Linked DNA regions of Homo sapiens: all the other regions are linked to region 3. Evidence: fine-mapped expression QTL. A gene starts in region 3. Each other region holds a variant in brackets. All regions are shown on one strand. Distances are between the middles of the regions. Region 1 overlaps GOT2 (glutamic-oxaloacetic transaminase 2). Region 2 has its middle 9.5 kb from the start of SLC38A7. Region 3 holds the start of GOT2 (glutamic-oxaloacetic transaminase 2).

Region 1 (10,028 bases), 28 kb before region 3:
TTCACATTGAAAATCAATCAGATTTGGTTCAGCCTCAAAGAGTGTGTTTATGTAAAATTCAAATGAGCGCTGGCAGCAAGCTGCGTTTTTTTTTTTTTCTAAATGGGAAAGGGTTAATAGCGACACAAAAGGACTAAGACAGCCTATGTGTAGCTTTAGTAAATTCCAACAGTATTTACTCCACTGGCAAAGTGAGAGTTCTAGTTACACATCTTCACCAGTCTTGGTGGTGTTTGTCTTAATTTTAGCCATTTAGGTGGGTGCGTCTAATAGAGGTTTTGTGTTTCCCTGATGAATGATACTGAACACTTTTTCATATGCTTTGAATATGCATAAATTCAAATTTGTATATCCTCTTTTGTGACTTGCCTGTTCAAGTCTCTTGCTCATTTTAAAAACTGGATTGTCTTATTGATTTGGAATAGTTCTGGATATATCTGGATTCTAGTTTTATTTTTTTAAGACAGGGCCTCACTCTGTCGCCCAGGATGGAGTGCAGTGGCACAATCATGGCTCACTGCAGCCTCGACTTCCTTGGGCTCAAGCGATCCTCCTACCTCAGCCTTCTGAGGAGCTGGGACTACAGGTATGCACCATCACTTCCGACTAATTTTGTATTTTCAGTAGAGATGGGGATTTGCCATGTTGCCCAGGCTGGTCTCAAACTCCTGGGCTCAAGAGATCCACCTGCCTAAGCCTCCTAAAGTGCTAGAATTACAGGTGTGAGCCACCACTCCTGGCTTGGATTTTGGTGTTATTTATATGTGCTGTCAATATATTCTCCATCTGAAGACTGCTTTTTCACTTTATTGGTTTCCTTTGTGGAACAAAAATCCTTGATTTTGATGAAGTCTAATTATGGTCAGTGCTTTTTATGTCTTGTTTAAGAAACATTTGCCTAAAGTTTTGAAGATTTTTTTTTTTTTTTTTTGAGATGGAGTCTCACTCTGTCGCCTACGCTGGAGTGCAGGGGCACAATCTTGGCTCACTGCAACCTCCGCCTCCCGGATTCAAGTCAAGCAATTCTCCTGCCTCAGCCTCCTGAGTAGCTGGGATTGCAGACGTGTGCCACCACACCCGGCTAATTTTTGTATTTTTAGTAGAGATGGGGTTTCACCATGTTGGTCAGGCTGGTCTTGAACTCCTGACCTCGTGATCCACCTGCCTCGGCCACCCAAAGTGCTGGGATTACAGGAGTGAGCCACCGCGCCCAGCTCCCCCTTTTTTTTAAGACGGAGTTTCACTCTTGTTGACCAGGCTGGAGTTCAATGATGGCGATCTCAGCTCACTGCAACCTTCATCTCCTGGGTTCAAGTGATCCTCCTGCCTCAGACTCCTGAGTAGTTGGGATTACAGGCACATGCCACCATGGCCCGGCTAATTTTTATTTTTTTTTCGTAGAGACGGGGTTTTACCACATTGGCCAGGCTGGTCTCGAACTCCTGACCCTCAGGTGATCCGCCCACCTCGGCTTCCCAAAGTGTTGCGGTTACAGGCATGAGCCTTTTTTACAGGCATCCAGCCCTGTTTTCTTTTTTTTAGAGACAGAGTCTCACTATGTTGCCCAGTCTGGTCTTGAACACCTGGGCTTAAGCAACCCTCCTGCCTCAGCCTCCCAAAGAGCTAGGATTACAGGCATGAGCCATGGTGCCTGCGCCTACTTTTTTTCCTAGAAGCTTTATTGTTTCACTTTCCACATTTAAGTCTGTGATGCATCTTGAATAAACTTTTGTATATGTTGTTAAGTAGGGGGTCAAAGTTCATTCTTTCCATTTAGATCATAGTTCACTGCAGCCTCAAACTCCGGGGCTCAAGTGATCCTCCCACCTCAGCCTCTTGGGTAGTTGGGTACAGGCCCAAGTCACTGCGCCCAGCCAAAATTATATTAGTAGTACAATCTCTACCACGTAAATATTTGCACAGAAAAACCAAGGGAAGATAATTCAATACAAACAACTGTTATCTCCACATGGTAGGCATTTGAGGAATTTAAAATTTTCTAAAATGAGCATACCCTACTGTTATCAATAAAAACTACTGTTTTCAACATTTTTATAAGATATCTTGAAAAAGAAACAATTGGTCTTTCAGTTATCATTAGGTATAAATAAACCAATAGGCCGGGTGCGGTGGCTCACACCTGTAATCTCAGCACTTTGGGAGGCCAAGGTGGGTGGATCGTTTGAGTGCAGGAGTTTGAGACCAGCCTGGGCAACATAGCAAGACCTGGTCTCATAAAAAAAAAACAAAAACAAAAACAAAACAAAACAAAAAAACCCCCAGTAATTTCTATGAAAAAAAAAATTCAGAAAAAAGGCTTAGAATAAACTCTCAAGTTGGCTGAGTAAGTTGGACTTTGGTTGTTTAGATGTATACCTGAAACAGTTCAGGCTGATAGTTCCCCATGGCTGATCTATGGGTGAGCTATATTTGAATCAACTGCAGTTTTTCTTTTAATTTAAAAAAATAGATTGTCAAGCTTTCTCTTAGACATGCTGAATCAGAATGCCTAAGAGGTGAGGCCAGAGAACCAGTACTTTAAATAAATGATCTAGATTTGGGAACTATTCTACCTTGAATTATAATGAAACCAAGGTATGACTATTCTCTCTGAGCTGGCAAACTACTATCAGATTGGAGAATGTTAACATTTTAGACCAGACTAGGGAGCTAGGAAAAGGCTGTGGGCCAATGTTCTGACCTTCTCAGAAAACCATCAAGCTGCAGACACCACATGATGAATGGGACTTAGTCCAGTGTAAGGTGGTAGTACCCATGTTTAAAAATAACAAGGTCAGGCTGGGTGCAGTGGCTCATGCCTGTAATCCCAGCACTTCAGGAGGCTGAGGTGGGCGGATTACGAGGTCAGGAGATCAAGACCATCCTGGCCAACATGGTGGAACCCCGTCTTTACTAAAGATACAAAAAATTAGCTGGGCGTGGTGGCACACGCCTGTAGTCCCAGCTACTTGGGAGGGTGAAGCAGGATAATTGCTTCAACCCGGGAGGTGGAGGTTGCAGTGAGCCGAGATCGCACCACTGCACGCCAGCCTGGGCGACAGAGTGAGACCAGGGGGTGGGGGTTAAGTTCCTTTCACAATTAGTTGAGGTCTTGGCAACCAACTTTCAACCATTTTTGCTCCAGACAGGGAGAACTTCAGTTTCTCCTAACTTAGGCAGTCAGTACCTTTGCAGAGCAGCGGACTAATATGTCTATTGTTTCCCCTTTTCAGATAAAGACATCCAGTGAACCAGTCCTTTCACATATCCTTTCACCACCTTGGAATGTCCACTAGTAACAGGAACACAGAGAAGCAAAGAGTCAGAGCGACCCCTGACCTGCCATGCAGTGTGTCCCTCAGGAGAAGGCAAGGGGGAAAGAACAAGTTGAGCCTGCTTGCCCATCCCAGCAACCATGGGGACACTGTGGAGGGTCCCTGGGCCTGGCTCCTGCTCCATTGCTTATCTGGCTGGTCACTCTCCCACAATGAAAGGCTCCTTGCACTGAATGAAAGGGACAAAATACCGTAAGCAGGACTGATGCCACACAGGTGCCAGTGCTGGATGTCTGCTGACAGGGGCATGTGACCTACATCAGAGGACACAGACTTGCAGTCTACCATCTGCACCCTGCTTCCAAATCATTTTTTTTCCTTTTTTTTTTTTTTTTTTGAGACGGAGTTTCGCTCTTGTTGCCCAGGCTGGAGTGCAATGGCGCGATCTCGGCTCACTGCAACCTCCGCCTCCTGGGTTCAAGCGATTCTCCTGCCTCAGCCTCCTGAGTAACTGGGATTACAGGCATGCGCCACCATGCCCAGCTAATTTTATATTTTTAGTAGAGACAGGGTTTCTCCATGTTGGTCAGGCTGGTCTCAAACTCCTGACCTCAGGTGATCTGCCCACCTCAGCCTCCCAGAGTGCTGGGATTACAGGCGTGAGCCACCATGCCTGGCCCAAATAATTTTTTAAAAATTGAACCAGTTGCCAACTTTTAAGCACCAACAGATCAACCATAGAAATCAAGATTTCCATTTTTCTTGAAAAATGTAAGACCTACCACCTTGGGCGTTCATCCTCACAGCTCCTGTCACTTCACTACTGCTCCTCAATGCTGAGGATGAGGGTTGATCACCACTGATCAACTTAAATCCAGTTCACAACACTTTTTTATTTACGTTACCTTCTTGGCTCCTATAGACCACTGAAGTTGTCACTTCTCCTCCACCCCTTCTACCCTTTGCCTATATCCACAGGATCCTTCATGGGACTCCACTTGTTCCCCACAAGGTCCAAGGGATTACACCCACATTCTCAGCATCTTCGGACTGGACAAACTGAATGGCAACATGAAGAAAACGACGAATCTTCAGCCAATATTTGGAATAGTGGATACATCTACTGGCTTATGATCAGCTACACGATTCCAAACTCCTACCCCTTTATTTATTTACCCACTCCTACCCCTTCCTCCCATTAAAGAAAAAAGATAACTTAGTAGACAGTAGTTGGGTCTACAGTAATTTTATTGTAACAGAGAAACCAGGCCGCAATAAGTCTACATGGTTAGAGCAGATGGTGGTTCTTTCCAGTGGGTGAAGCCTGAACCCAGCTAGCAGCACGCAAAGCCTAGAATATCCTCTTTCCTGGTACCACCCTGCGCCGCTGGACTCACAGTGTGAGATGAGAGGCTGCACACCACATTCAACAAAGGGAGGAGGTCCAACCGGGCAGAGACAACATCCCAACTGGAGAAACTTGCACTATCATTCAAGAGGATGCCGAGATAAAGTACAGTTTCCTACTCTCCACTATTCTTTGCTGAAAAGGGTGAGGGTACAGCATCAGCAGAAAATTATGTTCTTCATTCTTAAATAAATCTCGATAGGATGGAGTTGATGGTCAATCAAGCAGTAGAATGGGATGAAAATCTGCAATAGTTAAAAAATCTTTGCGTGTAAGGAAAAGAACGGCAATGACAAGGGAGAAAAGAGAGCCTTCTCTTTTTCTTAAATAAGACAGGAAACTGCATTATTTCCCTTGCTGGAGTGGCAGCAGCCTCATTGGTTTTCATAAAACATCATTTCTGCAGTGCGGCCTGTTGATAAGGTTGTTCCAAGATGGGAGGACAGACACGAGGCCGACTACTCATGACAGAACTAGGCCTTCTCTCAAAGCCTCTAACGTGTGCTGTTTCTCACGAGGAACCTGACACTTCAGTTAAAGCTTCTGAAATATTGCAATGGCATAATTGACAGGTTTTTTGGTGCGATGACTTTCTTGCACATGTAAACTCTTTGAGAAAAGTTGGAGAAAAAAGGACCGGGGAGAGTTTGGTTTAATATTCCAGACGCCAGCCATGGATGCCTCTGCCCTGTGTCACTACATGTTCTTTTCTGAGAAACATTCAAATGCTGAGTGT[T/C]ACACACTGTGGCTGAAAGAAATGATCCACTCACCACCATCCACCCTCTCTCATTGTCTGTGTGAAGCTCTCAATAGCAGAGGCTGAAGACAGAAAGGTTGTCTCTGTTTCCTCGCACCAGGGACATTACTTGGTGACCTGGTGAATGGCATGGGCAAGGTAGCCCACGTTGCTGGAGGTGACCCCTGCCACAGAGATGCGGCCATCTTTTGTCATGTAGATGGAGAACTCCTTGATCAGCCGCTCCACCTGCAGAGAGGAAAGAACTTGGGTACCTCTTCCCGGTACAGGGGATTCTCCCCGGCCTGACATGGCACAGTAGCCAACTTACCAACGCTCTATTTCCTCGCTTAAAACCTGTTCCCAGAATTTGCTGTTAGCTTGGAATAAAATAAGAATAAAAAGCTACTTTAAGGCTGGGGCGGTGGCTCACACTTGTAATCCCAGCTATTCAGGAGGCTAAGGCAGGAGAATAGCTGGAACCTGGAACCTGGAACCTGGGAGGCAGAGGCTGCAGTGAGCCGAGATTGCGCCAATGCACTCCAGCCTGGGCGACACAGTGAGACTCCATCTCAAAAAAAGAAAAAAAAAAAAGCTACTTTAAAGTAGGATGATGAATTCTGATGCATAAACAGATGGGGAAAAAGACACCTTTAGATTCAGCAGAGCCAGGATTCAATTATGAAACAGCTATTTCTCCTGTTGCTCTCTTGGGAGAAGCAACAGTGATTATGAACATGATCAAAACAAGCTCTGCTCTTTAGAAGTTTGTGAGTTCATGGGGGATACAGAGAGGTAAACAACTAAAAAAAAAAAGCAAAATAAATGCTAAAAAGTATTACAATACTTTTACCTAAAAGGGCTCCAAAATAACTGTTTTAACTGTTTTTAGGGTAATTTTGAACAGGTGGGTGATCTATGAAGAATCCTTCTGGGGCTGGGCTCAGTGGCTCACACCTGTAATCCCAGTAGTTTGGGAGACCAAGGCAGGCGGATCGCTTGAGTCCAGGAGTTCAAGACAAGCCCGGGCAACATGGCGAAACTATGTCTCCACAAAAAATACAAAAATTAGCCAGGTGTGGTGGCACTCACTTCTAGTCCCAGCTGCTCGGGAGGCTGAGGCAGGAGGATCACTTAAGCCCTGGGAGGTGGAGGTTGCAGTGAGCTGAGATTGCACCACTGCACTCCAGCCTGGGTTTCAGAGCGAGACTGTCTCAAAACAAAAACAAAAACAAAAACAAAACAAAACAAAACAAAACAAAACAAAAAACCCGAAAACATTAAATAAAAAAGAAAAAAGAAAAAAAAGTAATCCTTCGGGTTTGCAAAGACTGATCAGCTGGTCTGCTGCAGAGAAATCAGAATCACTCACCTGTTCAGGCTTTAGCCCTGTGAAACAGAACATGCCAATTTGGTCGGTGATGTGTTGCCAATTGTGGGTGGAACCCTCCTTCTTGAGGTTGGAGACCAGTTGAGTCCGCATGCCAATGATGCGGTCAGCCATGACTTTCACTTCTTGCAGCCTGTAAAGAAACCCTGAGATGCAGCTCATTCTGCCTAAGCACTGACCGATATGCTGGAGTTCACTGCATTTTTACCTCCCTTGAGCAGTCCCCTAGTGTGCCTCAATTCTCAGGTCACGAATGAGTGACACGCTGTCACTGGCCAGGGAAGAAAGCTATTTTATAGCATTCTGTTTTATATTGGAACACTATTTCCATAAGGCAACTGAAGCAGTTAACACACTTGAGTAGAGACAGTCCTTGACTTACAACTTTTCAACTTCATGATGGCACAAATGCAATATACATTCAATAGAAACCGTACTTTAAGTACCCATACAGCCATTTTGTTTCTTTCAGTACAGTATTGAATAAATTACATGAGACATTCAGCACTCTGTTATAAAATGGCTTTGTGTTAGATGATTTTGCTTAACTGTAGTTTAATACCTGTTCTGAGCATGTTTAAAGTATGCTAGGGTAAGCTATGATGTTTGGTAGGTTAAGTGTATTAAATGAATTTTCTTTTAATGTAGAGATGGGGTTTTGCCATGTTGCGCGGTTTGGTTACAAACTCCAAGGTTCAAGCAATCCTCCTGCCTAGGCCTCCCAGAGTGCCGGGATTACAGGTGTGAGCCACCACGCCTGGCCCATTTTCTTTTTCTTTTTCTTTTTTTCAGATACAGTCCATCACCCAGTCTCAGTCTATCACCCAGGCTGGATAGTACAATGGTATGATCATGGCTCACTGCAGCCTCAATCTTCCAGGCTCAAGTGATCCTCCTGCCTCAGCCTCCCAAGTAGCTGGGACCACAAGTGCATTCCACCATGCCTTGCTAATTTTCTTTTCTTTTTTTTTTTTTTTTGTAGAGACAGGGTCTCCCCATTTTGCCCAGGCTGGTCTGGAACTCCTGGGCTCAAGTGATTCTCCCACCTTGGCCTCCCAAAATGCTAGGATTACAGACATAAGCCTGGCCTTAAATGCATTTCTGACTTATGACAGGCTTATTGGGATGTAACCCCATCATAATTGCATCTGTATTAAGAAAAGTGGGCGGGGCACGGTGGCTCACGCCTGTAATCCCAGCACTTTGGGAGGCCCAGGCGGGCGGATCACGAGGTCAGGAGATCGAGACCATCCTGGCTAACACGGTGAAACCCCGTCTCTACTAAAAATACAAAAAAATTAGCCGGGCGGATCACGAGGTCAGGAGATCGAGACCATCCTGGCTAACACGGTGAAACCCCGTCTCTAATAAAAATACAAAAAAATTAGCCGGGCGTGGCAGCGGGTGCCTGTAGTCTCAGCTGCTGGGGAGGCTGAGGCAGAAGAATGGTGTGAACCCAGAAGGCAGAGCTTGCAGTGAGCGGAGATGGCGCCACTGCACTCCAGCCTGGGTGAGAGAGCAAGACTCTGTCTCAAAAAAAAAAAAAAAAAAAAAGAAAAGTGAATGAATCACTCTAAAACCTACTAAGATTAAGGTAAAAGCTGTGGGTTAAACAAAAAAAAAAAATGACCTTATTTTTGACATGGATGAAATATACATTCCCATCTTCACAATTGAGACAATGTACTATGAATCTACAATGAGCCAAGCTATTTTAGGTGGTGAGGACTGAGACATAGTCCTTGCCTTCAAAAGCTTGCAAGGGGTGCTTGTAACCAAACCTGTAAACCAAGTATGGAATACGGCCACAAAATGTAAAACACATAGGACACTGCTATGCTAAAAGCCCCAAGGAGAGTAAATTCTGTCTGAGGGACTGGAGAAGGTAGTCCTCTGACTGTGCACGGGGATCACCTGATTCTGAATACAACCTTCCCCTTCCTCAGAATCTACCCTTTCCACTCCATTCCCATGGCTCTGGGACATTCTTGGCTCTCACCAATGACATTCCCATTTACAGTTTATCTCCCTGTTCTTAGGTGTTCACTTTCCTAAACCATCTCTGTATAATGATGTTATGCACGGTTAGAAGAGAGATCACAAACTGCCAATTAAAGACCAAATATGGGACCTAGTAATGTTTTACTTCACCCAGTGAAACGTTTTTAAATTGGGCACTTGTGCCTAAAAGCTGAAACCTGTAGTTTCTCTTGAAAAATGAGAAACGATAGCACTGTATTAGCAAAATAATTACTGGCTGGAGCTGAGGAGCCCCTGGCCCCTCCAGTTATGGCATCTGATTTTAAATTTCCTACAGTTTCCATCGTCCAGCTTCATTCACTTTGAGGCCTGGATCCCAAAGATATTGAGTGCATGAACAGGGCTAGATGTGGAGCCATCTTAGCCAAACCCCTCCATCCTCCTTGTTGCCTGGAGAATCAAGTGTTGACTTCTTACAGTATCAACCAGGGTGCTTCACGATCTGCTCCACCTTCTCAGCTTGGCTGTCTCCCACAGTCCTCCTCACATTCGTGTTTTCATCACGAAAACAACTTGGGGCTTTCTACACAAGTTCTGCATAATGCACGTCCCACGCCTATGCCCTCACTCAGATCTCTCCCCAGTTTCCTTGTCCGTTTCATTTCCTTTGCAAAAAAAAAAGCCCTTTCCCCTCTTTAATGCACAGCTCACATGCCGCAGTCCTCATTACATCTTCTCTAACTCCCCACTAGAATCAACAGCTCTCCCTTTAGTCATCATTTATTCCATTCTGTCTTATATTAAATATCATGTGTGGCCAGGCGCGGTGGCTCACGTCTATAATCCTAGCACTTTGGGAGGCTGAGGTGGATGGATCCATTGAGGTCAGGAGTTTGAGACCAGCCTGGCCAATGTGGTGAAACCCAGTCTCTACTAAAAATACAGAAATTAGCCAGTCATGGTGGTGGGTGCCTGTGATCCCAGCTCAGGGGAGCCTGAGGCAGGAGAATCGCTTGAACCCAGGAGGCGGAGGTTGCAGTGAGCTGAGATTGTGCCACTGCACTCCGGCCTGGGCCACAGAGCAAGATTCTCTCAAAACAACAACAAGAACAACAACAACAACAACAACAACAAGAACAAGAAAGTCATGTGTGTATCTTTCTCATCAGATTATAACCACCCTGAGGGTAGTCATTAACACAGTCTGGCATCTTTGTCTACTACAGACTCTCAAATTGT
Region 2 (10,028 bases), 41 kb before region 3:
AGTAGCCAGGACTGCAGATGTGTGCCACCATGTCCAGCTAATTTTTAAATTTTTTGCAAAGACAGGGTCTTGCTGTGTTGTCCAGGCTAGTCTTGAATTCCTGGGCTCAGGCAATCCTTCCACCTCAGCCTCCCAAAGTGCTAGGAATACAGGTGTGAGACACTGTGCTACTCCTACAACTGTTTTGTATATTGATCTTACACCCTACAATTCTGTTGAACTTATTTACTAGCTCTAATAGTTTTATTAGTGGAATCTTCAACATAAGATTATAAAACCTGTAAATAGAGATAATTTTATATCTTCCTTTCTAATCTGGATTCCTTTTATTTTCTAGCCTTGACTGTACCAGAACCTCCAGTACAATGTTGAATGAAGTGATGAGAGTGGACATCCTTGTTTTGTTCCTTGTTTCAGGAGACAATCATTCAGCGGTTCATTATTAAGTATGATGTTGCCTGTGGATTATTTGTAGATGCCTTTTATCAGGGTAGGAATTTCCTGTGTATTCCTAGTGTGTTGAGTGTTTTTTATCATGAATGGGTGTTGGATTTTGTCAAATGGTGGGGTTTTTTTTCTGCTTCTATTGAGATGATTATGTGATGTTTCTACTTTATTTTATCGATGTGGTATGTACATTGATTTTCCTATGTTGAATCAATTTTGCATTCCTGGGATTAATATTTCTTGGTGATGGTGTAGTCTATGTGAAGCTGTCAAATCCTCAGTTTTTCTTGGTGGGAAGTCTTTGGATTCTTCATTCAATCTCTTAATTGTAAGTCTATTCAAATTTTCTATTTCTCTTTGAGTCAGTTTTGGTAGTGTTTTTCTTTGAGATGGGGTCTCACTCTGTCACCCAGGCTGGAGTGCAGTGGCACGATCTTGGCTAACTGCAACCTTTGCCTCCTGAGCTCAAGTGATCCTCCCACCTCCCAAGTAGCTGGGACCACAGGCATGTGCCACCACACCTGGCTAATTTTCTGTATTTCTGGTAAAGATGGAATTTTGCCATGTTGGCCAGGCTGGTGTCGAACTCCTGACCTCAAGTGATCTGCCCGCCTTGGCCTCCCAAAGTGCTGGGATTACAGGTGTGAGCCACCACGCCTAGCCAGTTTGGGTTAGTGTTTTTCTAGGAATTTGTCCATTTAATGTAGGTTATCTGGCTTGTTGGCATATATTTTTCATAGTATTCTCTTATAATCCTTTTTATTTCTATAAGGGCAGTATTAATGGCTTTTATTTCATTCCTGATTTTAGCAATATGAGTCTTCTCTTTCTTGGTCAGTGTAGTTAAAGCTTTGTCAGTTGTATTGATTCTTAAAAAGAAACAATTTTTTTATTTTGTTGATTTTCTCTATTTTTCTATTGTGTTTCCTGTATTTTAGCTCTAGTTTTTATTATTTTCTTTTCTTCTGCTTGCTTTGGGTTTAATTTGATCTTTTATTTACAGTTTCTTAAGATGGAACATTAGGTTATTGAATTAAGATCTTTCTTCTTTCTTTTTTTTTTTTTGACGGAGTCTCGCTTTGTCGCACAGGCTGGAGTGCAGTAGTGCGATCTCGGCTCGCTGCAACCTCTGCCTCCTGGGTTGAAGTGATTCTCCTGCCTCAGCCTCCCATGTAGCTGGGATTACAGGCACGTGCCACCACGCCTGGTAATTTTTTGTATTTTTAGTAGAGATGGGGTTTTACCACGCTGGCCAGACTGGTCTCGAATTCCTGACCTCAGGTGATCCACCTGCCTTGGCCTCCCAAACTGCTTGGATTACAGGCATGAGCCAACGCACCTGGCCAACATCTTTCTTCTTTTTTTAACACAGGCATTTATAGCTACGCACTGCTTTAACTACTTCCCAGAAGATTTGATATGTGTTTTCATTTTCATTAAAATATTTTCTATTTTCCCTTGTGATTTCTTCTTTAACTGATGCTATTCAGTAGTATATTGTTCAACATCCATGTATTTATAAATTTCCCAAATTTCCTTTTGTGATTGATTCCTAGTTTCATTCCACTGTGGTCGGAGAACATACTTTGTGTGATTTCAGTCCTTTTATGTTTATGGAGGCTTGTTTTATGGCCTAATGTATGGGCTACTCTGGAGAATGTTCCATGTGCATTTGAGAAGACTGCATATTCTGCTCTTGTTGGGTCAAGTGTTCTATAGATTGTCTATTAGGTGTAGCTGGTTGATTTATGGTATCGTTGAAGCCTTCTCTTTTCTTGTTGACCTTCTGCCTAGTTGTTATATCCATTCTTGAAAGTATGAGGCTGGGAGCAGTGGCTCATGCCCATAATCCAATCACTTTTGGAGGCTGAGGCAGGAGGATTGTTGAACTCAGTAGTTTGAGACCAGCCTGGGCAACATAGTGACATCTCATTTCTACTAAAAATTAAAAAAATTAGCCAGGTGTGGTGGCACATGCCTGTGGTCCCAACTACTCAGGAAGATGAGATGGGAGCATTGCTTGAGCCCAGGAAGTTTGAGACTGGAATGAGTTGTGCTCACGCCACTGCACTCCAGCCTGGGTGACAGAGCAAGACCCCATCTCAAAAAAAAAAAAAAAAAAAAAAGATTGTCTTTTGTCAACAGCATGTAGTTGGATCTTTTAAATAAAAAAATCCCTTCTGCTAGTATCTGTCTTTTAATTGTAGTGTTTAATTCATTTACATTTAATGTAATTACTAGTAAGGTAGGCTTTACATCTGCCATCGTGCTGTTTGTTTTCTATATGTCTTTTGGTTGTTGTTGTTGTTATTCCTCTGTTCCTCCATTATTGTCTTATTTTGTGTTAAGTACATATTTTCTAGTCTATCATTTTATTCCCTTGTGATATTTTACTTTTATCATTTGAATATGTCCCCCAAAATTCATGTGTCAGAAACTTAATACCTAATGCAACAGTGTTGGGAGGTGAGGCCACATAAGAGGTGATTAGGTCATGAGCGCTCTGCCCTGATGAATGGACTAATATCATTATTGTGGGAGTGGGTTAGTTATCATGAGATTGGGCTTATTACTGAAGCAAGTTCTGGACTGCGGACGGTGGCTCACACCTGTGATTTTTAGCACTTTGGGAGGCTGAGGTAGGCCTCACTTGAGGCCAGGAGTTCAAGACCAGCCCAGTGAACATAGCTGTCTCTACAGAAAAGAAAAAGTAGCCAGGCATGCTGTCTCATGCCTGTAGTCCCAACTATTCAGGAAGCTGAGGCAGGAGGATTGCTTGAGTTCAGGAGTTTGAGGCTGCAGTGAACTATGATCCTGCCACTGTACTCCAGCCTGAATGACAGAGCGAGATCCTGTCTTAAAATAAAAATAAAAATAAAAATAAAAATAAGTGTTCCACCTTCTGCCATGGGATGACTCAGCATGAAGGCCCTCACCAGATGGCAGCACCATGCTCTTGGACTTCCCAGTCTCTAGAACCATGAGCCAAATAAACTTCTATTGCTTATAAATTCTCCAGTCTGTGGTATTCTGTTACAGCAACTCAAAATGGACTAAGACATTTACTATATACAGTTTTGAGTGATTTTCTTAGTGGTTGCCCTGTGGATTATAATTAATGTTAGTACAACAATCTAGTTAGAATTAATACCAATTTAATTCACTTGGTTCCAAATCTTTGCTTCTATATCCTTTTGTTCTCTTCCCCTATATGTTACTTCAGTATGACAAGAGTTTATATACATTATAAACCCATCAACATAGTTTTACTGTTAAATTAAAAAAATTCTTTTTCTGACAGAGGGTCTCACTCTGTCATGCAGGCTGGAGTGCAGTGGCACAATGCTGACTCACTGCAACCTCTGTCTCCCGGGTTCAAGCTATTCTCCCACCTCAGCCTCCTGAGTAGCTGGGACTACAGGCATGCATTACCACTAAAAATACCTAATTTTTGTATTTTTAGTAGAGACAGGGTTTCACCATGTTGGCCAGGCTGCTCTCAAACTCCTGACCTCAAATTAT[CT/C]GCCCACCTTGGCCTCCCAAAGTGCTGGGATTACAGGCATGAGCCACTGAGCTTGGCTCCATCAACATAGTTTTATAATTCTTACTTTATGCAGTTGCCTTTTAAATGAGAGAGCATGGCCAGGTGTGATGGCTCATGCCTGTCATCCCAGCACTTTGAGAGGTGGATATGAGTGGATCACTTAAGCCCAGGAGTTTGAGATCAGCCAGGGCAACAAGGTGAAACCCCATCTCTACCAAAAAAAAAAAAAAAAATTAGCTGGGTATGGGGGTGTGCACCTGTAGTCCCAGCTACTGGAGAGGCTGAGGCGGGAGAACTGCTGAGCCTCGGAGGCAGAGGTTGTAGTGAGCTGAGGTTGCACCACTGTACTCCAGCCTGGGGGACAGAGCAAGACTGTGTTTTAAAAAATAAAAAATAAGTAGGGAACACAAGAAAAGTGTTATACACAAAAAAATGCATTTGTACTACTTTTAATATTTACTATGTAGTTACTTTTACTGGTGCTCTTTATTTCTTCATTCAAATTACTGTCTAGTGTCCTGTTATTTCAGCCTTAAGGATTTCCTTGAATATTTCTTATAGGACAGATCTGCTAGCAACAATTTTCTCTGTTTTCATCTGGGAATGTCTTAATTTCTCTGTTTTTGAAGGATAGTTTTGCTGGATGCAGAATTCTTAATTTATGGTCTTTTTCTTTGAGCACTTTGCATGTGTCTCCTCACTGCCTCCGGCCTCCATGGTTTCTGATGAGAAACCAGTTGTTAAGCTCACTGAGGAGCCCGGTATGTGTTCCTTCTCTTGCTGCTTTCAAATTTCTCTCTTTGACTTTGGATAGTTTATGATGTTTCTAGGTATGGATCTCTTTAAGATTATCTTAGGCCGGGCGCGGTGGCTCACGCCTATAATCCCAGCACTTTGGGAGGCCAAGGTGGGCGGATCACGAGGTCAGGAGATCGAGACCATCCTGGCTAACATGGTGAAACCCCGTCTCTACTAAAAATACAAAAAATTAGCTGGGCGTGGTGGCGGGCGCCTGTAGTCCCAGCTACTCGGGAGGCTGAGGCAGGAGAATGGCGTGAACCTGGGAGGCGGAGCTTGCAGTGAGCCGAGATTGCGCCACTGCACTCCAGCCTGGGCAACAAAGTGAGACTCCGTCTCAAGGAAAAAAAAAAAGATAAAAAAAGATTATCTTAGAGTTTCTTGGATGTGTAGATAATGTTTTTCTCAACTTTGGAAAGTTTTCCATCATTATTTCTTCAAATATTCTTTCTGCTCCCTTCTCGCTCTCTTGAGACAGCCATTATGTATATGTTGGTATGCCTGATGGTGTCTCACAGGTCTCTGAAATTCTGTTCATTTTTCTTCATTCTTTTTTTTTGAGACAGTCTGGTTCAGTCACCGAGGCCGGAGTGCAGTGTTGTGATCTTGGCTTACTGCAACCTCCCTCTCCTGGGTTCAAGTGATTCTCATGTCTCAGCCTCCTGAGTAGCTGGGATTACAGGCACATGCCACCATGCTCGACTAATTTCCATATTTTTAGTAGAGACGGGGTTTCACCTTGTTGGCCAGGCTGGTGTGGAACTCCTGGCTTCAAGTGATCTGCCCTCCTCAGCCTCCCAAAGTGCTGGGATTACAGGTACAGCCAGCCCTCATTTTTCTTCATTTTTTTTCTTTCTCTTCCATAGGCCGGATAATCTCAATTGATGTATCCTCATGTTCAGTGATTCTTCTGTCAGCACAAATTTACTATTGAGCCCTTGTATTAAATTTTTAATTTCAGTTATTACTGTACTTTTTAACTCCAGAATTTCTATTTGGGTCTTTTTAATAATATCTATTCATTGATAGTCTCTATATGACAGGACGCTGTTCTCATACTTTTCTGTAGTTGTTCAGACATAATTTCCTTTCACTCTTTGCCTATGTGATTCCAAGTCTTTGTCTAGTAAGTCTAATGCCTGGGCTTGGGCTTCCTCAGGGACAGTTTCTATTGACTGCTTTTTTCCCTATGTATGGACCATACTTTCCCATTTCTTTACATTTTTCATAATGTTTTTGAAGACTAGACATTGAAAAATAATATAATATGGAAATCCAAAAATTGGAGTTTGTTGCTGCTACCTTTTCTGTAGTGACCTTCCTGGACTAATTCTTTAAAGTCTGTATTCTTTGCTGTGTGTGGCCACTGAAGTCTCCTCTGAGTTAGTTTAGTGAATTTGATAGATTTCCTTAAATGCCTTGAACCAGTAAGTATCCCAGCCCGTTTGATTTTAATTCTCTGGTTGGCAGTTTATCCCTCTGTCCTGGACTTCACTTTCTGCTTGCACAGAGCCTCAAGGCCAGCCAGAAGTGAGAGATTAGGATGTTCTTAGATCTTACCTGGACATGTGCACAGCCTGTGCCTGTTCATGGTTTTCTAGTTTTCCAGGAGAATGACAAACTTTTACTTACTTACTTCTTTTTTTTTTTTTTTGAGACAGAGTCTCACTCTGTTGCCCAGCCTGGAGTGCAGTGGCACAATCTTGGCTCACTGCAATATCCCCCTCCCGGTTCAAGCAATTCTCCCACCTCAGCCTCCCGAGTAGCTGGGACTACAGGTGTGCGCCATCATGCCCAGCTAATTTTTTTGCATTTTTTCATAGAGACTGGCTTTCACCATGTTGGCCAGGCTGGTCTTGAACTCCTGACCTCAAGTATCTGCCTGCCTTGGCTTCTCAAAGCACTGGGATTACAGTTGTGAGCCACTGCGCCTGGTCCTTACTTATTGAGACAGGATCTCACTCTGTCATCCAGGCTTGAGTGCAGTGGCATTATCATGGCTCACTGCAGCTTTGACCTCATGGGCTCAAGTGATCCTCCTGCCTTTGTCTCCCAAAATGTCGGGATTTTAGGTGTGAGCCACTCAAAACTTTTTAAAGGCCTCTATAGACAATTCATTCCCCAGCTTTTTTCTTTTGAAGTTATTTTTTTTTCTTTCTTAGTTTTTTTGAAACCAACTCTTGCTCTGTCACCCGGGCTGGAGTGCAGTGGAAAGATCTCGGCTCACTGCAACCTCCGCCTCCCAGTTCAAGTGAGTCTCATGCCTCAGCCTCCTGAGTAGCTAGGAATACAGGTGTGCACCTGCATACCCAGCTAATTTTTGTATTTTTAGTAGAGATGGGGTTTCACTGTGTTGCCCAGGCTGGTCTCAAACTCTTGAGCTCAAGAGATCCGCCTGCCTCAGCCTTCCAAAGGGCTGGGATTACAGGCATGAGCTACCGCACTGGTCCCTGACACCAGTTTTGAGTCTTTTGGTTTTTAAGGCTACCATGGAGCTGGGAGGAGGGGGATGGGAATAGGGCGTTAAATGCTACAAGTCTTGCCGTTCTTACTGAGGTTGTCATTTTTCTTGAATAAACTCTCCTGGGATTGTTGGAAGCCTTTGCTTCATTCCCAGAATGTTGATTTTGGCAATTTTTGACAGTATTCTCATTGCTTTTATGGAAGAGAAGATTCTCTCTTCCACATTGTGCCATTTCAAAAATGCTCTCATAAGAATCATTCTATTTTTTTTTTAGATGGATTTTTGCTCTTGTTGCCCAGGCTGGAGTGCAGTGGTGCGATCTTGGTTCACTGCAACCTCCACCTCCCAGGTTCAAGTGATTCTCCTGCCTCAGCCTCCCGAGTAGCTGGGATTACAGGCGCCCGCCACCACACCCGGCTAATTTTTGGGATTTTTAATATAGACAGGGTTTCACCATGTTGGCCAGGGTGGTCTCGAACTGCTGACCTCAGGTGATCCACCTGCCTCGGCCTCCCAAAGTGCTGGGATTACAGGTGTGAGCCACTACGCCTGGCCAAGAATTGTTCTTTATTTTCCACTTCCTCCAGTTTAGAGTAAGAGTTTGGATGGGGATCAATGTTCATATTGATGCAACCGAATTGAGATGGAGCAGATGACATTGTTCCTTAAACCGCTTTGCCTACAGGATCCAGTAATTCCTTAAGAAGACATAATGCACTTGGTGGTGTGGCCTCTGCCTGCCCTGCTAGACAGATCTCTTGCTACTCCAATTTTTAAGCTCTAACTTGCTTCCAGGCCTTCCATTATGCTTTTGCATCTGCTGTGGAATATCCTAAACTGGACCAACTTAGAATAGGTCTTCAGACATTTGTTGAAATTGAGAAAGAGAAGCTTTTTTTCTTTCTCTCTTTCTCTTTTTTTTTTTTTTTTTTGAGAGGGAGTGGAGTTATTAAAAACTCCTGGAGCTGCTAGTGAGTATCTTCTCACTGTTGAGAGGATGGCCTTCTCAAGAATGAAGCCAGTACCCGCCAGGCGCTGTGGCTCACGCCTGTAATCCCACCACTTTGGGAGGCCGAGGCAGGTGGATCACTCGAGGTCAGGAGTTCGATACCAGCCTGGCCAACATGGCGAAACCCCGTCTCTACTAAAAATACAAAAAATTAGCCGGGTGTGGTGGCAGGCACTTGTAATCCCAGCTACTTGGGAGGCTGAGGCAGGAGAATCGCTTGAACCTGGGAGGCAGAAGTTGCAGTGAGCCAAGATTGCACTACTGCAATCACTCCAGCCTGGGTATCTGAGCGAGACTCTATCTCAAAAAATAAAAATAAAAAAAAAAAAGAAGAAGAATGAAGCCAGTGCCAGAAGACGAAGAATGAAGCCAGTGCCAGCACCAGCAGCAAAAAAAGTGAAGCTGACAAATGGAGGCAGATTCTTGGCAACATAGAGCACTTGGCTCTGGCTGTTGGACCTACCAGCTAGAGAGCTAGAGCTACCGTTATATCAGCCTTGGGCTGTTCTCCAGTACATGTACATGAGGTAATTCCCTTTTTATTCTTGTGCCAGTCAAGCTGGCTTTTGGCACTTGCAACCAAAGGAGCCCTAATTGGTAAAGTCTATAGTGTCAAAGCCAAGATGGGGAAAAACAATAAAGGGTGCCTTCGAGTTCTAAGCACAAATGACCTGCCACAGTACTTGCTCAAAAATATTTATTGAAGGTTGCTATGGGCATCAAATAATCAAATAAGATCATGTACTTTTTTTTTTTTTTTTTTTGAGACGGAGTCTCACTGTTGGCCATGCTGGAGTGCAATGGTGCCATCTCGGCTCACTGCAACCTCCGCCTCCTGGGTTCAAGCGATTCTCCCTGCCTCAGCGTCCCAAGTAGCTGGGATTACAGGTGCCCGCCACCACACCTGGCTAATTTTTGTGTTTTTAGTAATGATGGGGTTTCACCATGTTGGCCAGGCTGGTCTCGAACTCCTGACCTCAAGTGATCTGCCTGCCTCGGCCTCCCAAGGCCTCCCAAAGTGCTGTGATTACAGGCATGAGGCACCGCGCCTGGCCGATCATGTCCATTTTTAAGTGCCATGTAAATAAAGGTAAGGGATTGTTAAATATAAGCCTGACAGAAATTCTCAGCTGCAATTCCTTCACATTGCTCCAGGAATTGGTCTGAAAAGATCTTTGGATATTGAGTAACTTCCTTTTTTAGATTTGGACATTTAGAGAATGGCCTTCATTTTTTTTCTTTAGTGTACATATACTTTTTACAAAAATCTTTTTTGAGATGGAGTCTCTCTGTCCCCCAGGCTGAAGTGCCATGGTGCGATCTCGGCTCACGGTAACCTCCAGCTTCCAGGTTCAAGCGATCCTCCCACCTCAGCCTCCTGAGTAGCTGAGACTATAGGCCGTGTGCCACCACACCCAACTAATTTTTGTATTTTTAGTAGAGTTGTGGTTTCACCATGTTGCCCAGGCAAGTGATCCTCCTGCCTTGGCCTCCCAAAGTGCTGGGATTATAGGTGTGAGCCACCACGCCTGGCCTATATTTTTTAATTAAAAAAAATTCTTTTTTAGAGACAAGGTCTCATTATGTTACCCAGACTGGACTTAAACTCCTGGACCCAAGTGATCCTCCTGCCTCAGCCTCCCAAATAGCTGGGACCACAGGCCTATGCTACTGCATCCAGTTAGAGAATGGCCTTCCTGTCTGCAGATTCCCCAAACCTACCACCTCACTGGGGACTTGACAGCAAGTTTTTACTGTTTTAAAAC
Region 3 (9,731 bases):
CAGGTGTGAGCCACGGCACCTGGCCTAGAGGGAATACTCAATTTGATTAGCCCCACATTAGTAACCATCTTTCAACTCCTCCATGCCTTTCATTATTCCATTTCTTAAAATGGTAAAGACTACACACATATTGTAAGAACTCTGATGTTTTTAAAGGAATCGAGTAGATGAAAATAGGAGTGTTCTAGGGGCAAAACTCATGCTGATAACCTGTGACCTAGAAAGTGATTTCTATCAGTACATTTTGGATACAGGCACAAAGCCTCAAACATTGAGCAATATTGACTGGTCATCCAAGAGAGGTTAGGTACCAAGTATTCAGGTAAGCCTTTCCAATCGAAACGCATTGTAATTTCCCTGGAGCTTAAGCCTACTTAAAGTTTTACAGTTTTTAAACTGCTTTTCCTCACATTCTTCTTACTTTAAAATCAGAAGGGAAGTTAATTAGCTTGCCCACAATCACAGAGCTAAAAATGGCAGAGACAATAGCACAGCTGTGATCTTTTTTTTTTGAGACACAGTCTTGCTTTGTTGCTCAGGCTGGAGTGCAGCGGCGTGATCAGCGGGCTCACTGCAACTCTTCACCTCTCAAGCGATCAGGCTCGAGCGACCCTCCCACCTCAGCCTCCCAAGTAGCTGGGACTCCAGGTGCACATCACCATGCCCGGCTAATTTTTGTATTTTATGTAGAGACGGGGTCTTGCCATGTTGCCCAGCTGGTCTAGAACTCCCGAGCTCAAGCAATCCACCTGCCTCAGCCTCCCAAAGTGCTAGAATTACAGGTGTGAGCTACTGTGCCTGGTCTGTGATCTTTTAACCAATGGTTATGGTACCACAGTTGCACACTGCATTTTTAAAGTCTCACGAGACCTGCTCAGTTATTTCACCAAAAAGTAAATAATCAGAATTAAATAATTAAAAGCAAATCATTATAAATCAAAATACATTAGCATCTTTTTTTTTCTTCATTGAACTGCAACTATGTCTGATCTCATGTCACTATACATTTACAGTACAAGTCAACAAGAGAAAGTTTTATTCGCAGTGTTTAGCTAAATGATACACTTGAACTTACAAAGAGTTCCACATATTTACAAAGAGTTCCAAGTATGCCATTGGATAAATCCTCAGTTCTTCAGAATAACAACAGACAAGGTTTTATTGTATTAGAATGAGCCATTTAAATAGAAATGTCGATGAATTCAGTTTAAGTATTTTCCACTTTTACCATTTGGAGCTAGGTAAAGATCACTTCCACAGTGTAAGGAGGGAAGTCTGATCTTGCCTGAAGAGTTAACCTTCATGCCAAATATGGCATCTGATTCTGTCACCTAATCAGGTATCATTATTTAAATCTGAAGAGTAATTCCTCAACATTAGGTGCTCAACTATTTCAAGAATTTATTTTCTGGTCAGGTGGGGTTGCTTAGCCTATAATCCCAGCGCTTTGCGGGGCTGATGTGGGAGGAGTCTGAGACCAACACAGGGAGACTCTGTCTCTACAAAAAATAAAAAATTAGCTGGGTGTGGTGGTGTATGCCTGCAGTCCCAGCTACTTGGGAGGCTGAAGCAGGAGGACCACTTGAGCCTGGAAGGTCAGGCTGCAGTGAGCCATGATTGTGCCACTGCACTCCAGCCTGGGCAACACAGTGAGACCCTGTATTTAAAGAAAAAAAAAAAGGGAATTTTTTTTGGTACATATTTTGCAGCACTGTGGTTCCCCTGTGTAAGATTAGTCGAGAGAAGGAACAATAAAATCTGTAACTGGTTATGATCAATTAGTTGTAAACACCATTACACTTGGACCAGCCTATGTTCAGATTTTGATCTAAGATACAACATTAAAATGTCATACTGTATTTGTTTCCGTTGCATTACGTGAAAAATCAGGGCTTAAAATAAAAATATCCAATATAAGAGACATGCCAGCAACTGTTAATAGTGCTGAGATGTAACAGTGAATATAAAGTAGGTAAAGTCTCCGCTCTCATGGAACTTACATTCTAGTAAGAAAAATACAGAAAAGAAAAATGAGTCAGACTCTCAAACTGAAAGAATGACTAACCCTGACCCCAAGGGATTTTCACCAAGCACTAGAGCTTCAGGTGATCTAGCCAAATCCATAAAACAAGGTATTATTTTAAGATTACTGCAATAGGGAAACATACTTTCTCTTGACGGAAATTTTAAGCACTCCTTTGGTTTTCCAAATTTGTTGCATAAATAACTCCTCCTGGCTCTGGCCCACTAGGTAGGCAGACTTAAAGAGCACACGTTGACAGTGGGCCAGGAAGGAGCCAAGTCAGGAAGAGAAAAAAGTGCGAAGCCTGGGCAAAACTGTACTGCCAAGGCTGTGGGGCCTTGGAAAGGACAGATAGTTCTGCTGGCTGAAAGACACAGAGCATACATTCAAACGAAAGGCCAAGCTACGCTTTGCTCCTTGCAGTTAATACCTGCTTGGGGGTGGTTTTAAAACTCAGTTCCTTATTAAGGTAGTGCTTAAGGAGAGTGCTCCAAATCGGCTTCTTGAGTTGAATTAATCTTCTGGCTCCGGTCTCCACTGGGAATGAATTACTAGAGCTCGTTTCAAGCTCTGAAATTTCCCTCCATACTATTATACACGCCACAGTACGAAATTACGTTTGTCATTTTTTGAGCAATGACCATTTGTCATTGTCCTTCCCTCGCCTTGTTCACAGTTGTATCGTTGGCATCTGGTCCAGAGCCTGGCTCTGAGAAACTGCAGTTACGAAATATTTACTGAATGAAAGAGCACAGGGAGATGGAGAGGAAGATTGATAGCCTCCCTGCAACCGGACCTCCTTAGGGGCAATAAGGAAAAAACAAAACAAAACAAAAAAAGAGACACACTACACCTCGACCCTTTCCCAAGCAAAGGCCAAACGGGCCCCGGGGTCACAGGGACCTCGGGGGGTCGCAAGGTCAGGAGAATGCCGCACGCCAAGGTCGCAGGTGCGGGAAGGAAAGCGAGGCCCGAATGCCGGCGCCCCGGAAACCTTCCTCTCGCGCTCTTCCCGCCCAGGGCACACACGCGGCAGCCAGCCGCCGCCGGCCCACCGACTCGGGCGGGCCGGGGGCCAGGACAGGTGCGCCCGCCGCCCCCAGGGCACCCTATCAAGGGCACGGTCGTTACCCGGCGCCGCTGCCCCAGTACTATCCGCACCCCTCCCACTGAATGGGAGTCCGGCAACCGCCGAGGGCCACACTTCCTTTCCCTAGGGATTGCGTTGCACGCCTTCCTGCAGGGCCCAGTGCGGGGACCAGAGGGATGTGGGATCCTGAGGATCACTGTGGGGCACGGACGCTCAATCCTCAGTCCCCAGTAAGGGAAAGCCGAGGGGGTGGCAGAAAAGTGTGTGTGTGTGCGTGTGAGTGACAGTGTGTATTTGGGGGCCGGGAGGGGTGAATGTCCTGGGGTGCTCGCAGCTCGGCGGGGCAGGGCCATCGCCCTGGCTCCATCTCCGTTTCCCTTGGCTTACCTGGCTCTGGCAGAGGCCGCGGCGGCGAGGCCCGGGTGGAAGGCGGCGGCGATCCCGGGGAGGACGCGGCCGGAGTGCAGCAGGGCCATGGTGGACCGTAGGAGGGCAGTGGGCAGCCGCAGGACGGAGCAGAGGGCGAGCGGACACACACACAGGGAACCGGCTCCTGCTGAAGGTAAGGACAGGGACTTCCCTGGGCCAGAGCGGCCGCGTGCTGGGCCCGAGCCACGTCACAGCGATCCCTGGCGGCCGGCGGGCGGAGCGGCGTGGGCTCAGCGGAGGTCGTGGAAGAGGATGACTGCACAGTTTACCTACGCCCAGCCCTTGCTGCGCTTCATTCATTTAATCCAGCTGGGCCAGGCCTGGCCGGCCGAAGAGGTGGCTGCTGTTATGGCAGTTTGAAAGATGAGAAAATGTAGGCTGACATAGTTGACGTATTTTGTCTGATGCCTTACAGCCATTAGGACCCAAGGTGGCCTTACTTTCAACCCTAATAGTTTCCCTAAGCACAAGTCATGTCACGTCGTTCCTGAATGTTTCCTTATCCCCCACCCTTTTTTTTTTTTTTTTTTTTTTGAGATGGAGTTTCACTCTGTCACCCAGGCTGGAGTGCAGTGGCGTGATTTCGGCTCACTACAACCTCTGCCTCCCAGGTTCAAGCGATTCTCCTGCCTCAGCTCCCCGAGTAGCTGGGTTACAGGTGCCACCACCACGCCCGGCTAATTTTTGTATTTTTAGTAGAGACGGGGGTTTCACCATGTTGACCAGTCTGGTCTCAAACTCCTGATCTCAAGTGATCTGCCCGTCTCAGTCTCCCAAGACTGCTAGGATTACAGGCATGAGCCACCGCACCTGGCTTCCTTATCCCTTTTATGGAGAGGGTCGCATGTGTATTTTGTGGGGCAGTTGTGAGGATTAATAAGATTAGCAGATTATGTCTAAAACAGGGCCTGATTTAGTAAGCACAAAATAACCCATGGTCATTAATGACAAACTCGTGTATGTCAAATCCTGATAACTGTTTGTGGAAGGAAATGAATCGGTTTTGAAGGAAATGAATCGGTTTTAAAGGAAAAAGCAAATGAATTTCAGACACATCCACAAGTCAAACGAGTCTTTCTCATGTGTAGTCTATTTCTCTGATACTCGTCTCTTAAACCAAGGTAGGGGCCCGGTGTGTTGGCTTATGCCTGTAAACCCAACACTTTGGTAGACTGAGGCAGGAGGATAGCATGAAAACAAGAGTCTGAGACCAGCCTGGGTAACAAGATGAAACCCCCATCTCTTAAAAAAATAAAAAAAAATTAGCAGGATGTGGTGTTGCGTGCCTGTTCCAGCTACTCAGAAGGCTGAGGAGGGAGGATTGCTTGAGCCCATTAATTCAAGAGTGCAGGCCGGGCGCGGTGGCTCACGCCTGTAATCCCAGCACTTTGGGAGGCCGAGGCAGGCGGATCACGAGGTCAGGAGATCGAGTCCATCCTGGCTAACCCTCTCTCTACTAAAAAAATACAAAAAAAAAGTAGCCGGGCATAGTGGCGGGCGCCTGTAGTCCCAGCTACTCGGGAGGCTGAGGCAGGAGAATGGCATGAACCCGGGAGGCGGAGCTTGCAGTGAGCCAAGATCGCGCCACTGCACTCCAGCCTGGGCAACAGAGCCAGACTCCGACTCAAAAAAAAAAAAAAAAAAAGAGTGCAGTGAGCCAGGATTGCGCTACTGCACTCCAGCCTGGGTAACAGAGTGAGACGCTGGCTCTAAATAAATAAATAAATACATACATAAATAAAATAAAACCGAGATAGAACTGTGTACCTTGGCAATTTAATATCTCCTCTGTGGCTCCACGTTGCCTGAATGGTAAAGTCTAAACCCCTACTTAGGGCCACATTCTAGGTCCTTCCGGCCCAGCTCCAATTTACTGTCTCAGACCCTTATGCTCTCATATGACCTTGACCTATGCGCCTATAGGCCATGACTTGGGATTCTACCTGTGAAAAGTAAAGTAGAGATTCTTCTTTAAAGACTTTCCTCCCTGTCTAATTAGAAATAAATAGTAACTTCTCTTAAAAACAAAATGTATTCAAAGACCTGTACTAACAGTCTTAAATATCTGCTAGCCATAATAAAGAAATCAATGTACTTTATGTTCCTAGCTGCCACCATTTAGCCTAAATATTTGCCCTGGCATGCTTATACTGGTCCAAGCAAGCATTAGGTCATAGCCTGTTCCTCTTCCTTATTTGAAGGTGTTTTTACCTTTCTCAGCATTCCACAAGTTACTTCCTCCTTCCTTTGCTCTCCTCTGCCTTTGCCTCTTTTAAAAAGTTCTAAGTTGCTAGCCAATCAGAACAAATACAAAATGTGAGGACCTGTTCCAGCCAATGAAAACCGGACACAGCAGCAAGGTGGATGTATCAGGTTATAAGTGACCTTGTCTCCTTTGTTTGGTGTACTCTCATGGCAAAACTGCTGTCGAGTGTACCCTTTCTGCCGAAAGTATAAAGATGGCCTTGCTGAGGAAATTAAATTTATGTTCAAGTGCTATTTCTTTACAGCACCAAGAAACAAGAATTTCAAACATACCAGTACATCAGTTTGCTCAGACTGCTGTAACAAATCCCCATGAATTGGGTGGTTTAAAACAACAGAAATTTATTCACTCACAATTCTGGAGGCCCAAAATCAAAAATCAAGGTATTGGCAGGGTTTGTGCCTTATGGGGTCTCAGAGACTCTGTTCCATGCTTCTCCTAGCTTCTGGCAATTGTCTGCACTCCTGGGCATTCGTATGCTGTTAGAGGCATCACTAATCTCTGCCTCTGGTGTCACACAGTGTTCTCTCCCTGTCTGTCTCTTCTCTTCTTTTAAGGACACCAATCATATTGGGGTAGGGTGCATCTTAATTGCCTCATCTTCGCCTGATTACATCTGTAAAGACCCTATTTTCAAATAGATCACATTAATGGGTTCCCCAGGTTAGAACTTAAACGTATCTTTTTTGGGGGCACATTTCAACACATAACAACTACTATTCCCAAAACAATTACATGTCCAGGTATAAACCCTAGAGATCTTCTCACACATTTTTAAGGCTGTCAGTAAAGCATTGTTTATAAAAGCAAAACAGGGAACAACCTAGTCGCCCATCGATGGAGGAAGAGATGGATGTTCTGCTACAGTCTCATGATGGAGCATTACAGAACTACTAACGTGAATGAACTCAATAGATGTCACCATGGATAGACCTCAAAAACATAAACATGCTATAGAATTATACATATAATATGGTGCCACTTAGACAATATTTTTAAAATACACAAAACCATAACATACATTTATTCATAAATGTATGTAAAAGTTTGAAAAAATATGCCAAGGATATGGTTCAATACAGGATTAGGAGGGCATGAGCGTATTTGCCCTTGTGGAGGGAAGGAGACAACTTTGTCATATTAGCTTCATAAAAATTATAGATAAGAGGCAGGCACGGTGGCTCGCGCCTGTAATCCCAGCACTTTGGAGGCCAAAGCGGGCGGATCACCTGAGGTCAAGAATTAGAGACCAGCCTGGCCAACATGGTGAAACCCCGTCTCTACTAAAAATACAAAAATTAGCCAGATGTGGTGGCGCGTGCCTATAGTCCCAGCTACCCAGGAGGCTGAGGTAGGAGAATCGCTTAAACCTGGGAGGCAGAGGTTGCAGTGAGCCTAGATTGTGCCACTGCACTCCAGCCTGGGCACAGAGCAAGACTCTGACTCCAAAAAAAAAAAAAAAAAAGAAAAAAAGAAAAAATACAGATCAGATTAACAATTGTCACCATTTTGGGGTTGAGTATTTGTCACATTGGATTCTGTACTTTTCTGTATGTGTGTATATGTGTGTGTGTGCATATAGTTTTTTGTGTGTGTATATATATACACATATACATATATATACACACATATACATACATATACACATATACATATATATATATACACACATATACATATGTATATATGCTAATTTGAGTTCCTGATATGAAAGGTGGATTGGAAGGAACAACCCTACAGTGGGGAGACTAGGTAGAAGGAAGGTTTACACAGGAATCCAGGCAAGAAATTCTGATTGCCTGAGTTCAGGTAGAGGTAACAGTGATGTAGAAAAGGTTACAGATCTGGGGCATATCAAGGAGGTAGAATCAGATGGATTTGGTGATTAGATGCAGAGAAAGGTAGAAAAGGAGTCAGAAATAATTCCCAATGCTTTAGTTAAAATTGGGGTTGTCTGCAGTTAACAGAGACCCCGAATAATTGACTTAACATATATATCTTTCTCACATAAAAATCTGGAGATAGGCAGTCCAGGGTTGGGGTGGCATTTCTGACCCAGAGTCCTTAGGAAGTCAAGTCCTTCCAGATCCTCGCCCCGCCCTCCCTAAAGTATGGTTGACTCCCAGTGGTCCAAGATAGTAGCCATAGCTTCATCCATCACATCTCCATTCAAAGCAGCTGGAGTGCAAAGGACGTACACCAGTTAACTTTTAAAAGAGTTAAAATATGGGCCAGGTGCAATGGCTCATGCCTGTAATCCCAGCACTTTGGGAGGCTGAAGCAGGAAAATTGCTTGAGTCCAGGACCGGTCTAGACCAGTCTAGGCAACATAGTGAGACCCTGTCTCTACAAAAAAAAATGCAAGAATTAGCCAGGTGTGGTGGTGTGCGCCTGTAGTTGCAGCTACTTGGGAGGCTGAGGTGGGAGGATTGCTTGAGCCTGGGAGGCAGAGGTTGCAGTGAGCCGAGATTGTGCAACTGCACTCTAGCTTGGGCAACAGAGTGAGACGCTGTCAGGGGGCGAGGGGTGGGGGGGAAGTTAAAATAGGAGGAGGCAGAGTGTGGCAAAGATCAGATGGAGGAGAGAGTGAGCCAGGGGAGCACAGAGGAGGAAAGGCTCAATGTCAGCTGTGGAAATCAGGGAGGCCTTCATGGGGGAGGTGACATTTGATCTGAACTTTAAAGGACTGAGGTAATGTGGTATGTGGAGGAGGAAGGAAGGAAAAGACATGGCCTATGCCCCTCCTGATTATCTTCCTTGTCCTGGCTGTCTACCTCCCCAGTCTCCCTCCACCCCCCTTTTCTGTGGACCTGCCCCTTCTGGCCATTGCCCTGGGCTTTTTCACCCACGCACCTCATATTTCCAACCCTACTATTAATTACTTGGATTCATGAATACTGCATTTCAGGTTTTGGTCCTGAGCCACGGGTCCTTTAAGCTGTCCACCTGCTCTGACAGTCTCAGGAGCAAATGACAGCACTCCTTCCCCCTCAGGGTCAACCACCATGTCTCCATTTCTCTGTATTTTACAATATGGAGTAAATGCTCATTTGAAAAAATCATCAGGTTTTTGATTTTTGAGTAAGACTCCATCTCAAAAAAAATCATAAACTTTGTTAAAACATTATGAGTTTTTTTGTGATTTTTTTTTCCTCTAGCTCTTCAGCTGTCATCATTGTTAGTGTATTTTATGTGTGACCCAAAACAGTTCTTCTAGTGTGGCCCAGGAAGCCAAAAGATTGAATACTCCTGTCTTACACTGTCACCTCGGGACATCTATAAAGCTTAGATGTTGCAAAACAATGAACTTTGTCCTCAAGAAACACAGCTAATTTACTAAAAATGCACATGTAGACCTATGATTTTAATTTAAAACCATCTTCTAGATATTTACCGAAGAGCCCTTCCCTCCACCCTTTCTCTTCTCCTTCCACCATTCCAGGGACTAAGTACAGGACTATGTCTAGCTCCAAGAGGTCTAGGGACAAAGGTCTCTCCCAGAAGACAGGTGTTTGTAAAAACGAACAAGAGTACATTTATAAAGGGATTATTTTACTTCCTCTACTTTAACATACTTTGAGCATTATAACTTATTTTATTATTTAATGCACGCAATAATAACTAAAATGTGCATATAGAACAATGGTTAGGCCATCTGAAGTAGTCTAACTCATGGGCATAGAACCCTTCTCTCTGCAAACTTCCTCCTCCCCATCACCCACCACCACCCAATGAGCAGTCAGCATACCCTCCAAGACATCAACTTTAACAATTCTGTCCCCAAAATGCAACCACTCCTATAATGTTTAAAAAAAAAAAAAGAAGGGTATTACTTTAGCCCTTTTAACATATTTTTGTGCATTTTTAAACATCTAGGAAGATGAGCTGTTTCAAACAGGACTTAAGTTTTTCACTATACACGC

Evidence for each region.
Region 1: its variant is fine-mapped to the expression of GOT2 in tibial artery (GTEx, PIP above 0.99). The same link has a PIP of 0.9 or more in lung.
Region 2: its variant is fine-mapped to the expression of GOT2 in whole blood (TOPMed, PIP 0.98).

What each region holds. Positions count from the first base shown.
Region 1 is chr16:58,702,626-58,712,653 of GRCh38, forward strand. GOT2 (glutamic-oxaloacetic transaminase 2) reads right to left here. Exons shown (of 10, transcript NM_002080.4): 9 at 6,792-6,942; 10 at 4,506-5,668. The coding sequence ends at 5,546. Among named protein-coding and RNA genes, the nearest start is that of SLC38A7, 23 kb to the left of the region's middle. The variant T/C (reference allele first, on the strand shown) is at 5,420.
Region 2 is chr16:58,689,261-58,699,288 of GRCh38, forward strand. No RefSeq gene overlaps it. Among named protein-coding and RNA genes, the nearest start is that of SLC38A7, 9.5 kb to the left of the region's middle. RefSeq lists a silencer at 9,076-9,242. The variant CT/C (reference allele first, on the strand shown) is at 3,970.
Region 3 is chr16:58,730,640-58,740,370 of GRCh38, forward strand. GOT2 (glutamic-oxaloacetic transaminase 2) reads right to left here and starts at 3,677. Exons shown (of 10, transcript NM_002080.4): 1 at 3,501-3,677. The coding sequence starts at 3,589. RefSeq lists silencers at 3,002-3,091, 3,192-3,281 and enhancers at 3,404-4,022, 3,722-3,801.